Regions from separate parts of the Homo sapiens genome. Here region 2 is linked to region 1. The links come from fine-mapping of genetic effects on gene expression. Tissue or cell type: whole blood. Region 1 holds a variant in brackets; the other region holds the start of a gene. All regions are shown on one strand. Distances are from middle to middle.

The links. PIP is the estimated chance that this variant, and not a neighbour inherited with it, causes the effect.
Region 2: JAKMIP3 starts here. The variant in region 1 is fine-mapped to the expression of JAKMIP3 in whole blood (TOPMed, PIP above 0.99). The same link has a PIP of 0.9 or more in T cells.

Annotation. Positions count from the first base shown.
Region 1 is chr10:132,187,712-132,194,411 of GRCh38, reverse strand. DPYSL4 (dihydropyrimidinase like 4) reads right to left here. Exons shown (of 14, transcript NM_006426.3): 2 at 3,577-3,665; 3 at 1,570-1,754. Among named protein-coding and RNA genes, the nearest start is that of DPYSL4, 4.1 kb to the right of the region's middle. RefSeq lists an enhancer at 6,244-6,700. The variant A/C (reference allele first, on the strand shown) is at 3,988.
Region 2 is chr10:132,062,521-132,069,920 of GRCh38, reverse strand. JAKMIP3 (Janus kinase and microtubule interacting protein 3) reads right to left here and starts at 3,975. Exons shown (of 24, transcript NM_001323087.2): 1 at 3,860-3,975. RefSeq lists enhancers at 1,676-2,176, 4,451-5,198.

The sequences.
Region 1 (6,700 bases):
GCTGGGCTGGTTTCCCGAGTGCCCCACAAGACTTGAAAGGGGCCATCCTGCCCCCTGCACACAGCCATCATGCTGCTGCCCCACCAACCACACACCCAAGGCCCGAACACTGCTCACTGGCCTCTCCTGGTGCAGCCAGACACAGCTCCAAGCCAGGTGGTCGGACAGGAGGGCGCACCCGCCAGGGATGCCTTCCTCCAGCACAGCCCTCCCTCGGGCCCCTACTCATCCCAACAAGATGAAGTGGGCACCCAGCCTCCCTGCAGCCACCCACAGTGCCAGCCTGGGCCTGCAGGCCGAGGAAGACAGAGGCAGGATAGAGGCCAGCCTCGTGTCTGTGGTGTTTCTCTGTCTTCGCGGGGACCCACAGCTGGCCGGGTGCCTTGGCACTGGCACGAGGCAGGTGGTCTCGACTGTGCAGACGTCCTGACCGGCTTGGGCCGCCCCCTGAAGGGCGCGAGCAGTGGCCAGTCTCCTCAGACTGCAAGATGGGCTGCTGCTGGTGTTTTCTCCCTTTGTGGCTGAGTAAACCAAACCAAGCTGTGATTTGGTAATGGCTAAATGTCCCGCGAGGTGTTTCAGGGTCCTCAGAGCTGCCCTCCCCGGTGTGCCAGGGACACAAAGCAACTGACGTGCATTAACTCACACATGCCTCAGAAGCTCATGAGGCCAGTGTTCTGTTTTACAGATCAACAAAGTGTGACTTATAAAAGCCAGCTGAGTTTATCTGGAGTCACACAGCTAGAAAACCATACAACCAGGTTCAGCTAGGCTCCTCAGACCCGTTCTCAACCACAGCAGCGATGTCTGTGCCAGACGGACGCCGCAGAGTGAATGGCACCCAAGGCCACACAGTGCAGTCAAGGTCTAGGCTCTGAGGCCTCGTCCTGCCTCCTGAGCTCACCACGTGCTCGTGGTGGGCAGGCGGACTCCACTCACCCACCTGTTAAACTAGGCTTAGCTGAGCCCAGCTGGGCTGAGCTCAGAGGGTTTTAGGAGGAGAGCATGTGAGCCGATGGGTGTCAGGATAGAGCCCGTGCCGGGCACGCAGCCAGCACTACAGAAATAGCAACTCGGGTTATTTTTTGATGGGATAATAATGAGCATTGCTTTTATCTTTTTCTAAAAATACAGTCTCCATCCTTAACTCTTCTTGACATGAGCAAGAACCTTCCAGATATGAAGCTTCCGAGGCATGTGGCTCAAGGTCAAACATGTATCTGGCATTTCAGACAGCATGACCCCTCCCCTCGCCCAAGGCATTTGAGTTTTCCAACCCCCAACTCCGAGCTGGCTACTAGTGCCCAGGGAAGAACAAGTGGACACACGTCAGTCACTGATTTCCAGTCCTGGAAATCCCAGGAGCATTCCAGCACTGGCCACACAGAAACACCCAGAGTGAGACACAGGGATTAGAAAAGCACTCCAGGTTCTCAGACAGATGCAATAAAGGCAGACAGCTGAGAAAGGCACCTTTAGGCGACACTCCTCCTCCCACACACACCTGGCCAGAGAGAGGGGCAGCAGACGCTGGCTGCCCCCTGTAGAGGAGGAGACCCAGACACTCACAGATCATGGTGGTTCCTCCTGCTAGCGCTGCCTTGGTGCCCTGACAGAAGTCGTCAGCCGGTGTCATGCCCAGGACAGGCATCTGCAGCCTTGTGTGGACGTCAACGCCACCAGGAAGGACCATCAGGCCGTGGGCGTCAATGGTCTTGATGCCCCCAGGGACGATGAGGTTTTCTCCGATTTGTCTGAAAGCAGCAGAGATTTCACTGGTTACAGGGAGCCCAGGTCAGAGCCCAGATGGGCTCCCAGCAATGCAGCAGAGCTAAAGGGTTTGCATGAGCTCCAGACCCCGAGGAAAAGGCCAGCACGGCCGGCCACTCACTGGACTAGCTCCTCGGGAGTGCCAGGGAGCAAAGCATCACTCAGCGCAGCTCAGGACGGTCACTGCAGGGTCCAGCCTCACGCAGACGCCACGCCCTGTGGTTTTCCACTCAGGTCCCTGGTTGGTACTTTTTTGACTAGAGGACGGAGCAGCTTGACAAACGGAAGCAGGTGCGCTAATAGATGTGGGCACCAGTATTTAGGAAGCACCTGCTATGAGCCAGGCACCATACTAAGTGCTGCGATGAACAAAGAAACGTGGAAGCTGGTGTCCTGCTTTCGCCCACAGCCACCCAACATACCTCTGCCCTCACCAAAGGCCGGGGCTCTGACAGTGGCCACCAGCTTACTGCTGCCAAGGATGGGTTTAGAAAAGAAGAAACCTCTCCCATGGATTTCACCCAAAAGTCAATGCCTGGATACCACGTGACCAGTGTGTACACAAGAGCTGGGAACTATTTTCACCTGCCTGGATACCACGTGACCAGCGTGTACACACGAGCTGGGAACATACTTTCACCTGCCTGGATACCACGTGACCAGCGTGTACACACGAGCTGGGAACATACTTTCACCTGCCTGGATACCATGTGACCAGCGTGTACACACGAGCTGGGAACTATGTTCATCTGCCTGGATACCACATGACCAGCGTGTACACACGAGCTGGGAACATACTTTCAACTGCCTGGATACCACGTGACCAGTGTGTACACACGAGCTGGGAACTATTTGCACCTGCCTGGATACCACGTGACCAGTGTGTACACAAGAGGTGGGAACATACTTTCACCTGCCTGGATACCACGTGACCAGCGTGTACACACGAGCTGGGAACATACTTTCACCTGCCTGGATACCACGTGACCAGCGTGTACACACGAGCTGGGAACATACTTTCACCTGCCTGGATACCACGTGACCAGCGTGTACACACGAGCTGGGAACATACTTTAACCTGCCTGGATACCATGTGACCAGCGTGTACACACGAGCTGGGAACTATGTTCATCTGCCTGGATACCACATGACCAGCGTGTACACACGAGCTGGGAACATACTTTCATCTGCCTGGATACCACATGACCAGCGTGTACACACGAGCTGGGAACTATTTGCACCTGCCTGGATACCACGTGACCAGTGTGTACACAAGAGGTGGGAACATACTTTCAACTGCCTGGATACCACGTGGCCAGTGTGTACACAAGAGGTGGGAACATACTTTCAACTGCCTGGATACCACGTGGCCAGCGTGTACACACGAGCTGGGAACTATTTGCACCTGCCTGGATACCACGTGACCAGTGTGTACACAAGAGCTGGGAACATACTTTCAACTGCCTGGATACCACGTGACCAGTGTGTACACAAGAGGTGGGAACATACTTTCAACTGCCTGGATACCACGTGGCCAGCGTGTACACACGAGCTGGGAACTATTTGCACCTGCCTGGATACCATGTGACCAGCGTGTACACACGAGCTGGGAACATACTTTCAACTGCCTGGATACCACGTGGCCAGCGTGTACACACGAGCTGGGAACATACTTTCACCTGCCTGGATACCACGTGACCAGCGTGTACACACGAGCTGGGAACATACTTTCAACTGCCTGGATACCACGTGACCAGCGTGTACACACGAGCTGGGAACGTATTTTCATTTTCGGCGGAAACTTACTTTATCAAGCCATCTTCCACGTGCACATCAGCGTAAAAGGACTGGTCGTCATTCACGATCCTCCCACCTCTGATCAGAAGGCGGTCACTCTATCGGGAACAACAAAGGGTAATTTTTCTCCAAACTGAGTTACTCAGTAACACTCTTGGTGCAACTCCTTCCTCTGAAATTATGACTGAAACATTCAGGCAAAATTTCTAGACGTAAAAACGAGCACAAAAGCCTGCAGCGGCTTACTATTCCCCAAGAAGTGGCACCAGGCGCTCAAAAACAGTTGCCCCTGGAAGTGCCACGCACGCCCCACAGCTGCTGCTCAGACCTCGCTGAGGGCAAAGCCCGTGTTGGTGAAAGTGTGGTAGTGCCACAGGTCATATTTATATCTTCTGATTTACCACTGGATTGAGGAGCCCC[A/C]GCCTGAGGTGGGAGGCGAACGCTGCCTCATGGCCTCCTGTGCAGCCTCAGAGATCCTGCTCTCCTCCACCCTGTCTTCCACCCACGCAGAGGAGGCTGGGAGCGGACGGAGCTGGACTTTGGTTCCACCCAAACACTACAGACCAGTGATGGTGCCAGGAGGCGGAGGCAGACAGCGCCCCCACAGGCATGGTCCCCACCCCAGGAGGCTGCCTCCCACTGAGGGGAGACCAACGGCAGCAAAAACACACGTGCACAGATCATCACAGTCGGTGACGAATGCGCAGAGCACAGTGAGGGCGCCATGGCAGGGCCATGAGAGAGGGGCTGGGAGAAGGACCTCTGGGGCCAGGGTGGCTGATACAGGGGCAAGGCAGACATGGCGAGCGTTCCAGCCAGGAAGCAGCCTGGCCTTGGGGCAGGAAAGGGCTTGAGCTGCCATCAGCAGACCTGGGAGGAGGCCGAGGGATGGAACCTTCTGGTGGGGTGGTGGTGCCAGAGGCAAGTCGGTGCCCAGAGCTTGGCAGGGGCAGGATATGTAGGCCTGGGGACTCCATGGCTGCCCCCTGACTGGGGGCCTTAAGCAGGTTTCAATCCTGGTTTGATGTTTTAAAGAGATCACCTTTGGCTGCTGTGTTAGAAAGTAGCTTGTGACAGGTAACAGTGGGAGCCGGATCATTGCTGGGGTGATTTCTGAGTGAGATGAGGGGCTCTGGGACAGGACTATGGGAAGGGACGGGAGGAGAGTGGATTCCAGAGAGGCTGGGAGTCAGGAGGGCAGGACTTGCTGACCAAGAGGCCATGGGGGTGATGGGGAAGAGATGGGGTGACCTCGGTTCCAGTGCAGCTCGGACGCACTCCCAGTGGGACACAGAGCGTCAGGCTGGTGAGGCCCGCTCTTTGTAGGTCAGCCCTGGCAGCACAGAGCTGTGGCGTTAGACAGGGATTGACTCCAGTGCTTGGCAGTCATAAATCCACTTCTAAGAATCCTACCAGATGGCCGGGAAGCAGAAGATTAGGCAGAAAGTAGGGTGTCACTGATGGGACTCTGCATGACCGTCAGAGGTGAAGATCTGACCTCATTGGAGAATGGGGGAGAGAAACACAAAAAAGGAGTGAAAGGAGGTGGAGAAGGACGCGCCCACGGGCTGGACTCGGCAACGCTTTTCCCTCCACCGTCTGGCGTGCGCCTCAGCACGCCCTGCAACTGACCCGGCAGGACTGACCGTCTGCATTTAACAGGGAGGTCCGGCCGCCTGCTCTGGGTTTCCAGGGCCCACCCATAGGTGGCCAGGGCCCTAGCCTGGGGCTAGAGCCTTCACGCACCGTCAGTCTGAAGCCAAGAGCATTAAACTGAAGTGCACAATTGGTAAAACTCTCAGAATGAGAAGGAGTTCATTATCTAGGAACTCCATTACAGGATTCACTGCTGACATCTAACTGTGGGGCTGTATTTTCAGGATCCCAGTGACTTGTCAACCTCTACCCCATAGTCTACAAACGGTTGGCAGACTATGCCACAGGCCAGACCCAACCCTCTACCTCTCTTCATACAGCCCTAGGCTAAGAATCGTTCTTGTATATTCACTGAAAACAATAACAAGAGTATGTCATGACTCAAAAATTCTATGAAGTTCACACTGCAGCATCCACAGATGAAGTTTTGTTGGAACACAGTGGTGCCCATCGACTTCCTAAATGTCCAGGACTGCTTTCCTGGCAGGGCCAAGCAGCTGAGACAGGAACAGCGTGGTCCGCAAAGCTGACAACATTTACTCTCGGGCTGGTTGTGGAAGAAGTTTTAGACCCTTGGTCTACAGAGCTGTCTGTTCCCAGCCGCTGCACCTCTCCTCCTCCTGCCCAGTCCCAGCTGAGCGCCAGGCTCAGCCCTGACCCGGCACCACCATGCATTTGCAGAGCCTCTGTGGCCGCATCAGGCCCTGGCTGCCTTCCCGGTGCTGTCCCTCTTCTTCACTTTCCACCCCTCCCAGGGGACCCACGCATTTTCAAGGAAGCCCTAGAAAACGCAACCGGGCAGAAGGAGGCTTGAGGAGACGTGTGGTCTGGGCTCTCTGCTCATAGGCGCCCAAGTGTTCAGGCACCCGCACTGAGACTGGGTTTGGAACCCAGAGGAGACGCAGCTGGGGTGTGGGGCTGTGCTCTTCTTACTGCACTCATCCGGATGGAGGTGAAAGTTCCCGGGAAGCAGCTGCCCCTCCGCACTGACATGGTTGCCTGACCTCCCCTGGGAAGGGGTCCTCCTGCCACCCCCAAACTCGACCCCCACATGCCAGCTGACTGGCAAGACCTCCTGCATCAAGACCAGACCCAGCCGGGCAGAACCCTCTGGAGGCAGCAGCCCCTCCCATCTGGAGAGGGGAGGGCTCCTTCCTCGCTCAGAGTCTGGGGGAGTGGAGCCCACAGCCCACGGCTCGAGCTAATGCCAGAGGTCAGACCCCACGGCCCTCCCGCCGAGGCCAAGTCCAGAGTCGGGTCTGGGACCCCATGGACTCCCCCGCCCAGGTCCTGCCGGGTCCCGAAGCCTCCTTCCTCCCACCCCCATCTCCCCCCGCCCGAGCGGGGAGGCTTTGTTTCTGGCAGAGCGGGACCTCCCGCGCCGGTGCGTGTGGGTGTTGGGGAGGGGTCTCTGCTCTCGAAGGTTCAGGGGCTGCCAGGGTTCCCGGCCAGTGGCCCTTGACCGCTCGCTTTCCTT
Region 2 (7,400 bases), 120 kb after region 1:
TCTGTGCTCCCATTGTGCCCTATGCCATCAGTGCCCACACACAGGGTGCTGGTACCAGTGAACATTGGTGGAATGGATAAGCAGCAAGGGCGGGCTCAGGAAGCCCCCACCTTCCCAACCCAACATCACCACCTCACTTTCACACTTTGCTTCTTTTTGCTAAATGTCACTGGAAGGTCCTTCTGTCCATGGTTTCCTCTTCTTCCCACTCTGAGACCAGAGCCATGCTGCAGGCTATCAGGTGCTATGCACCTGCCAATTGCGCTCTTTAATGAAACTCTGAAATGGACATGGCCGCTGGACACAACAGGAGGTTGACCACAGAGACCTGCACGCAGGGGGGGATGCCAGACCTACATGTGAGACAGCTTCAAACAGCAGAGCTTCAGCCCAAGTCCTAACTCCTCCCCATCGGAGCTCATCACCAAAACACCCAGGAGCCCCCTGAGAAGGTTGTCTGGGGGGTCCCTGGTGAAGATGGGATGGATTCCAGGCCCCTTCCTGCTCAGACCCACCCCACCACCATCAGGATAGTACTGGATCTCAGCTTAACACGAAACAGGTCAGTGGGGACCTGGGAAAACGTGTCCTTGGGGGTGTAACACAGACCCAGTGTCCCTTCAGAAGAAAAACCGAGGCCTCCAGACCCCTCCCCTGGCCTCCCACCCCTGGCTGGGTGCTCAGAGTCCTCCTCAGGCAGGAAGACCTGGGGTCCTTCAAAGTCAAAGTAGTCCTGGGTCAACCACCCACCAGGCAGGTGGATGTCTGGGAAGAGCAGCAGCTGGGGAAAGTTTTAATAAGCTCCGTGCCCAGGAAGAATGGCGCCTGGGTAGGATTCCTCCTTACCCAATTAAACACATTGGACCAGTCCAGCTAAAGGCGCTCCCCTCGAACTCAGCCGCAGGCCGAGCACTAAGGCCAGTAAGGTCTGCAAATCCTCCTGATCCAGTCACATCCTTCATCCTGAGCTGGCCGGAGTCACTTTCCCTAGGTTTGAATTCCGGCTTCACTTTGAGGCCCGGTTTTTCTGGAGACCAATTCTCTGTGCCAAGGAGAGGGTTTCCCATGATGCCCCTGCCAGCTGTGCTTGCTTGGAAACTGGCAACCACAGGACATTCCTGATGTCATGTCCTGGGGTCAAAAACCCAAGGCAATCAAGAACTCAGCTCCTGAGAGCCTTCCAGAGGGACCCCAAAGGAAAGTAAGCATGGCCCTTGCCTGCAGCACAGGTTTGATAAATATAAGACGTCTGCAAAGAAAGCAGGCCCAGGCAGCTCCTGGGGCTAAGGTGCAGGACAGGAGACACCTCCAGTCTCCGGCTCCCAAAGCACGTCTACCTCACATCGCTCAAAGCCCAGCTTGGGGTGCCAGACCAACAGGGCTATATTGAGATAAGAAACACCTGCCCAAGAGGTTCATGGATAAGAAACACTTGCCCAAGAGATTCATGGAAGAAGCCTAGGAGGCCAACATAGGCTCTTTCAAAAAGAGTCATCTCAGTGGCTAGTGTCCTGAACTTATTCAATCCCCGTACTAAAGAGGGCCGTTTCAGGGTCCAAATGGAAAATTAACACCACCATCCAGCCACATCCTAGCTTGCCTGTCTGGAAACTCAGGAGTCAAGGAAAAATAAAAAGATATGGCATTGGTCCTGAATGGAATTCAGTTTACAGAAGCCCACAGTCCACACGGAAGCCACAGTGCACACGGAAGCCCACAGTCCACATGGAAGCCCACAGTCCAGACCACGCAGAAACCCACAGTCCACACAGAAACCCACAGTCCAGTCCACACGGAAGCCCACAGTCCAGACCACACAGAAACCCACAGTCCACACAGAAACCCACAGTCCACACGGAAGCCCACAGTCCACACGGAAGCCCACAGTCCACACGGAAGCCCATAGTCCAGTCCACACAGAAGCCCACAGTCCACACGGAAGCTCACAGTCCAGACCACACAGAAACCCAGAGTCCACACGGAAGCCCACAGTCCACACAGAAGCCCAGAGTCCACACAGAAGCCCACAGTCCAGTCCACACGGAAGCCCACAGTCCACACGTAAGCCCACAGTCCACACAGAAGCCCACAGTCCAGTCCACACGGAAGCCCACAGTCCACACGGAAGCCCACAGTCCACACGGAAGCCCAGAGTCCACACGGAAGCCCACAGTCCAGTCCACATGGAAGCCCAGAGTCCACACGGAAGCCCACAGTCCACACGGAAGCCCACAGTCCACATGGAAGCCCACAGTCCAGTCCACACGGAAGCCCAGAGTCCACACGGAAGCCCACAGTACACACGGAAGCCCACAGTCCACACGGAAGTCCACAGTCAAGATCAACCTTCCAAGAACATGTATAGGACACTTACTTCTCTTGGAGGAGCTCGATCCAAAATACGGGGGCAGAGGCACAGCTCTGACTGACAGCTCCCTTGCTGTGGGACCACCACCTGGTCGTTTGGATATTGTTAGTTAGGACCTAAAGTAGTAAGGCCTTCCCAGGGCTGTCGGGAGAGAAGCAGGAGCTCCGTGCATGTTCTCTGCCACAGCGTGCCCTTAGGTTTCACAGGGGTGCCCTCAACTCACAGGAGAGGCAGGGAAACCTCGGGAATAGCAGGAATGCCAATGCCCTCCCCCCACCCTCAGCCTTGGAGAAGGAATGTGAATGTGCCAGGCGTCTTGTCTTCTCCAAGCACATATTGATCATATTGATCTACTCTGTGGGACTCTTAGGGAACCTCATCCAAACGCCAGCCTTTTGCCGGTAATGCTGTGAATGTAAACTGAGGGTCCTTCCTCGGCCCGGCTCACTTTCCTCTTCTGCTGCTCTTCTCGGGAACTGAGGTGGCGTTTTACCACGGACCTGCTCAAAGGCCCGATCCACTGAGAGGACTCTCAAGTCTACTACTCCAGGCTTGGCTTGGAATGAGAAAACCGTTTTGTGACTGGTTCTCCCACACTGTGAACAACAAAATCAACGGCAGCAGCAAGTATTTACATCCCTAGGGTGCCTGCATGGTTTCCCGGCCAGTCTCACTGACATCTCAATAAGCATCAGTACAACAACGTACTGCCAAGTTACCTGTGACACCCTTTCCACCGCAGCCCTGCCAGTCCCAATCAGCAGTGGATTTTCTTTGAACAACTGTAGAAACTGAGGCATGGTGCAATAACCTCAAAGAGTGAATTAGTAAGTTAATAAGCTGTTGTTTCCCAAAAACCTGGAGTTCCTTGCATAAGAAGTTATATCAATGAGTGATGTGTGATTCTTGATTAAGTTTTAAAGAGAAGACACCATCCAATCAATGCGCAGGTAGGTGGTGAGGCCTCAAGCCATAAAGATGACCTATTCTTCAAAAGGAAAACAAGCAGCAAAAAAGTCCAGCCGGTTACCCCACGGAGCCAGGAAGCACCCGGACGCCGCAGGCCTCCCGGGCTGTGCAGACAGCTCTCTGGTGCTATGTCCGTGGGATTCTCACCACAGCCGGCAATACACAGACTCAGCCTGGCTTCCCCAACCCACCCCACCACGGCTGCCGTGCCAACAAGCATCCGCTTTACATATGGGATGGAACACACACCCATGCTTTAAAGGAGAAACCTACTACTGGGAACGCAGGCCCAAGCCTCCTCCAAATGTGTGCATGAGCATGAACGTGAAAACGGATAAATGAAGCATCTTCCTCTGTGATCGTCCCTGCACCCCTCAGAGGACAGACCCCAAACTGTCAACTTTCCAGCCACATACGTGTGCGCACTAAATACAGAAGAGCACCAGGTGGAAAGAGCCTGTGCAGAGACAGCCAAACCGAAACCAACAAAGCCTCTGCAGCAGTCAGAAAATAAACACTCACATTCCAAAGCTCGCTGTCTGCTCCTCTCTCCCATCGCTCTGCTCGACTGTGAGAATCTTTCCCGGCTCGTCCAAGACTCAGTCCGGCTTTTGCGCAAATCAGCTCCGAGCTTCTATGACTCAGCAAAGAGCTCGGCTTTTATTTTTCAGATGGAATTTACCACGCTGTGACTACATCCAGGGGGAGGAACCATTTCCCCGAGCTGTTTCCAAGCAGAGCCCTTGAGCCAGGATCGCCCAAGCTCTCCCTGTGCACCTTAAGGCCAAGCACAGAGGCATCCTCTGAGCCCCCAGCCCAGCTCCCTGCAGGGCGCGAACAGACGCTTCTCGGTGGGGAAGGGGCCCGCAGCTCTGCACGGCCGGGCGGCCGAAGGCACAGCCACGCAGGTGAGATCCTGAAGGCAGCTTGGCTCTATTCAGATGCAGAGGCGGCCTGGGCTCCGGGTTGGCCCGGCGGCAGTCTCACGTGAAAACCAGCGAGCGGCAGAGGCCACGGCTGGGCCATCCCTGCCCTCACCGCCCCCTCGGCTTCCTGGCTGCTCCAGGACCGCGTTCTGGCCGGCTTTCCCTCCTGCTTGGAGAACCCCCTTCAAGATTGCAGAGTGAGCGGGTCAATAATAGGAACGAACTTCCACTCTGAGGGTATCTATTTTAAATGTCAGGTGATAGAAGGGATTTGCACACACTCAACACTGAGGACTGAAAATGCAGACGGGAACCAGACACAGGAGACCAGCAGCATTCCTGTGTGAAGGGCAAGCACGAGAGCTCACCTGGCCCGCCAATCCCACACGCAGTCCATAATCACCGTCCGGAAAAGCCGTGTGACAGCCGCTCTGTAGAAAACGCAGGGTCTGACAGGGTTTCCAAGCAGGAGGCCGCTTAGAGTCCATCTGGGTCCGATTCCATCAAGGCAGCCTTGAGGGCTGCCGGTGCGGGTGGCCTGAAGCTCCTGCCCTGCCCTGTCTCCGGCCACCAGGGCCTGCGCTGAGACTGCATCGGAGCCTGGACCCCAGAGCAGGCCTGCACGCCCAGGTTCTGGGGGTCAGCCTGGGAGGACCCTACATCCCCCCTGCTCCCAGCCCGCTCTGCCTCAGTTCCCTCGCCTGCACCCTGCCTGCCCCCCACAACCTGCCTCTTCTAGTCAAGGCCAAATGTCACTTCACCCCAAAGCTGAGACCGGCAGGCATCACCCCGAGAGGAGCCCACAGAGTGAACGCCGATGATAACATGTCAGAGGATGGCACAGGGCAGGCCAGGACTTCGGGTTACTTCTGCTGTCTGTCTAGATCTGGCCACCCTCATAAGTTAGAGCAAGCAAAAAATTGTCCTGATTAAAACCATGGCCACACGTCTGGCCAAACGTCCAGGGTGATGCAACAACCCTCCAAGGGTCACATGTCCTGACTCGTGTGACGGAGCCGCCCGCTGTCCCTGGTTACCAACCATCGCTGCCTCTATGTCACAGGGGAGGAGGCTGGAGCGCCAAGAGGCCATGCGGCTGCCCCACAATCACATCCCTGTCAGGTCCCGGAGCTGGATTCAGACCCGGAACGGTGGGTCGGAGATCCAGACCCCTCCCGTGTTGCCCTGAAGCAAAGAGGGTTCCCATGCCGGCGGCTCGGGGTCCACGCCCGACCCCGAGGGTGGCTCCTCCTCAGTCGGAGGCAGGCCACGGGGACAACCTTCCTGACGAGGGCAGTGCCCCCTCAGCCCAGCTGTCCTCCTGCTGGAATTGATCCTGGGGAAACAACACAAGGATGGTGTGTGCACAGATTTGACTTTAGTCCAAATACTTTATAGCACCTACCCCGTGCCAGGCGCTGTTGTAAGCCTTTAAATATAACTCACTCAGGGATGCTTACGGCAGTGTTGTCCATAATATAACAGGGAATAATTGGAAACATCCTAGACGTCCAACAGAGGAGTGATTTAACAAGCGATGGGAAACGCACATACGTCCAAATACAATGGGGCCATTTAAAAATGTCCCCAGTCCAAGCTTAACAGAAAGACGTAAACAACCTATTGTTTAAGTTTTTTAAAGTCAGCCATAAAAAAGCTGGTATCGTATGCTCACATTTCTGTTTAAAAAAGTGTGTATAGTATGATCACATTATTTGTTTTTAAAAACGCGTGCCTGTGTGTGTTGCACTCAAGAAAAACAAAGCCTGAAAGCGTAGATACCAAGCTCTAAAGTGGCCATAGCTCCAGGTGATAGGATCTCAGGTGACTTGATATTTTGTTTTGTATCTTTCTGAATTGTATGTATTTTTTTTGTAGAATTGGAAACAATATTTTTAGAATCAGAAAAAACATCTACTTTCATTTCCAAACAGATGCACATGCGTGTATGTGCTTTTGATTCCTGCAGTAAACGTGCCCCTTGCAGACGGTCCGTTCTCTCCCGGAGCCCAGAGGGAGACACTGTCCCTTCCAAATCCCCACGCTGGCTGAGGCGGAGAGCAGGTGGGTGCTGGGCCGGGCTGACACCCGGCGTTCCAGCTTAGGGAGCAGCCTGCTCTTTAAATAGCATCCATTTTTCTAGTTGTAAAAGTGAAATGTGCTCATTGTAGAGAATTTGGAAAACACAGGAATAGATGAATAAGAAAACCATCCTTGCTAGTCCTCAAGAAGCTGAGCTTTGAGCCTCCCAGCCACATTGCCAGCTCCACCCTAATTCTTCCAGATCCCAGAAACCGAGCCCCAGCACCTGGGATGGAGCCAGCACCCCCAGGACGTGTTCTGAGGAAAAGAGGCTTAAACAGCAGGCCTCACTTGTGTCACAGGGTCTGGGAAAACCACGACCTCCAGTGGGTCTCTATGTCTCACGTGGCTGCCTCACCAGGCACCACGAGGCCCAAGTCTGATCCCACAGCCCGTCCCTGGCTTCCCTTTCCCACCCACGGGCAGTTGTCACCTGTCCTTTCTGGGGGAGCTTGGCCACTCCCATGATCACACCCAAATCCAGGGCTCTGCTGCTCCATCGCTGATTCCCAGACCCACCCGTCCTGCTGGCCCGGTGTCTCCATACAATTCCTCGGGGGCCTCTCAGACCCGGCGGGTCCAAAAATAACCTGCCCTGCCCCAAACTTCACTCTTCCTTCTATTATATTGCAGGTCCTGACACAGCCATTCACCAGTTATTATCCAAGCAAAAATATGGCTGCCTTCCTTTTCTCCTCCCTTCCCAGACAGGCCTGCGCCTTCCAGGCCCTGCACACAGCTGTTGGACCCACCACCCCAGCTCCCGTCATGCAAAGGCACCTCCTCCTGGAATCCTGCCAGGACTGCCCCCAGGGGCTCCCATCCTCGGTCCCTCTGTCTCATGACTGAGACCTGTTTTTTTATTCCCATGCATGGCTTCTGTATTTTTACTACATAACTATGAATTCGTCATCATTGCTTTTTGTGTTTTGGAGAAATAGCATAATTGGCATCATACTCTACATATCCTTTTGCAATTTTCTTTTTTCACTCAACGTCATGTCCTCGAGGGCTATCCGCACTGGTGCGTGTAGATCTTCGTCCATCTTCGCTGT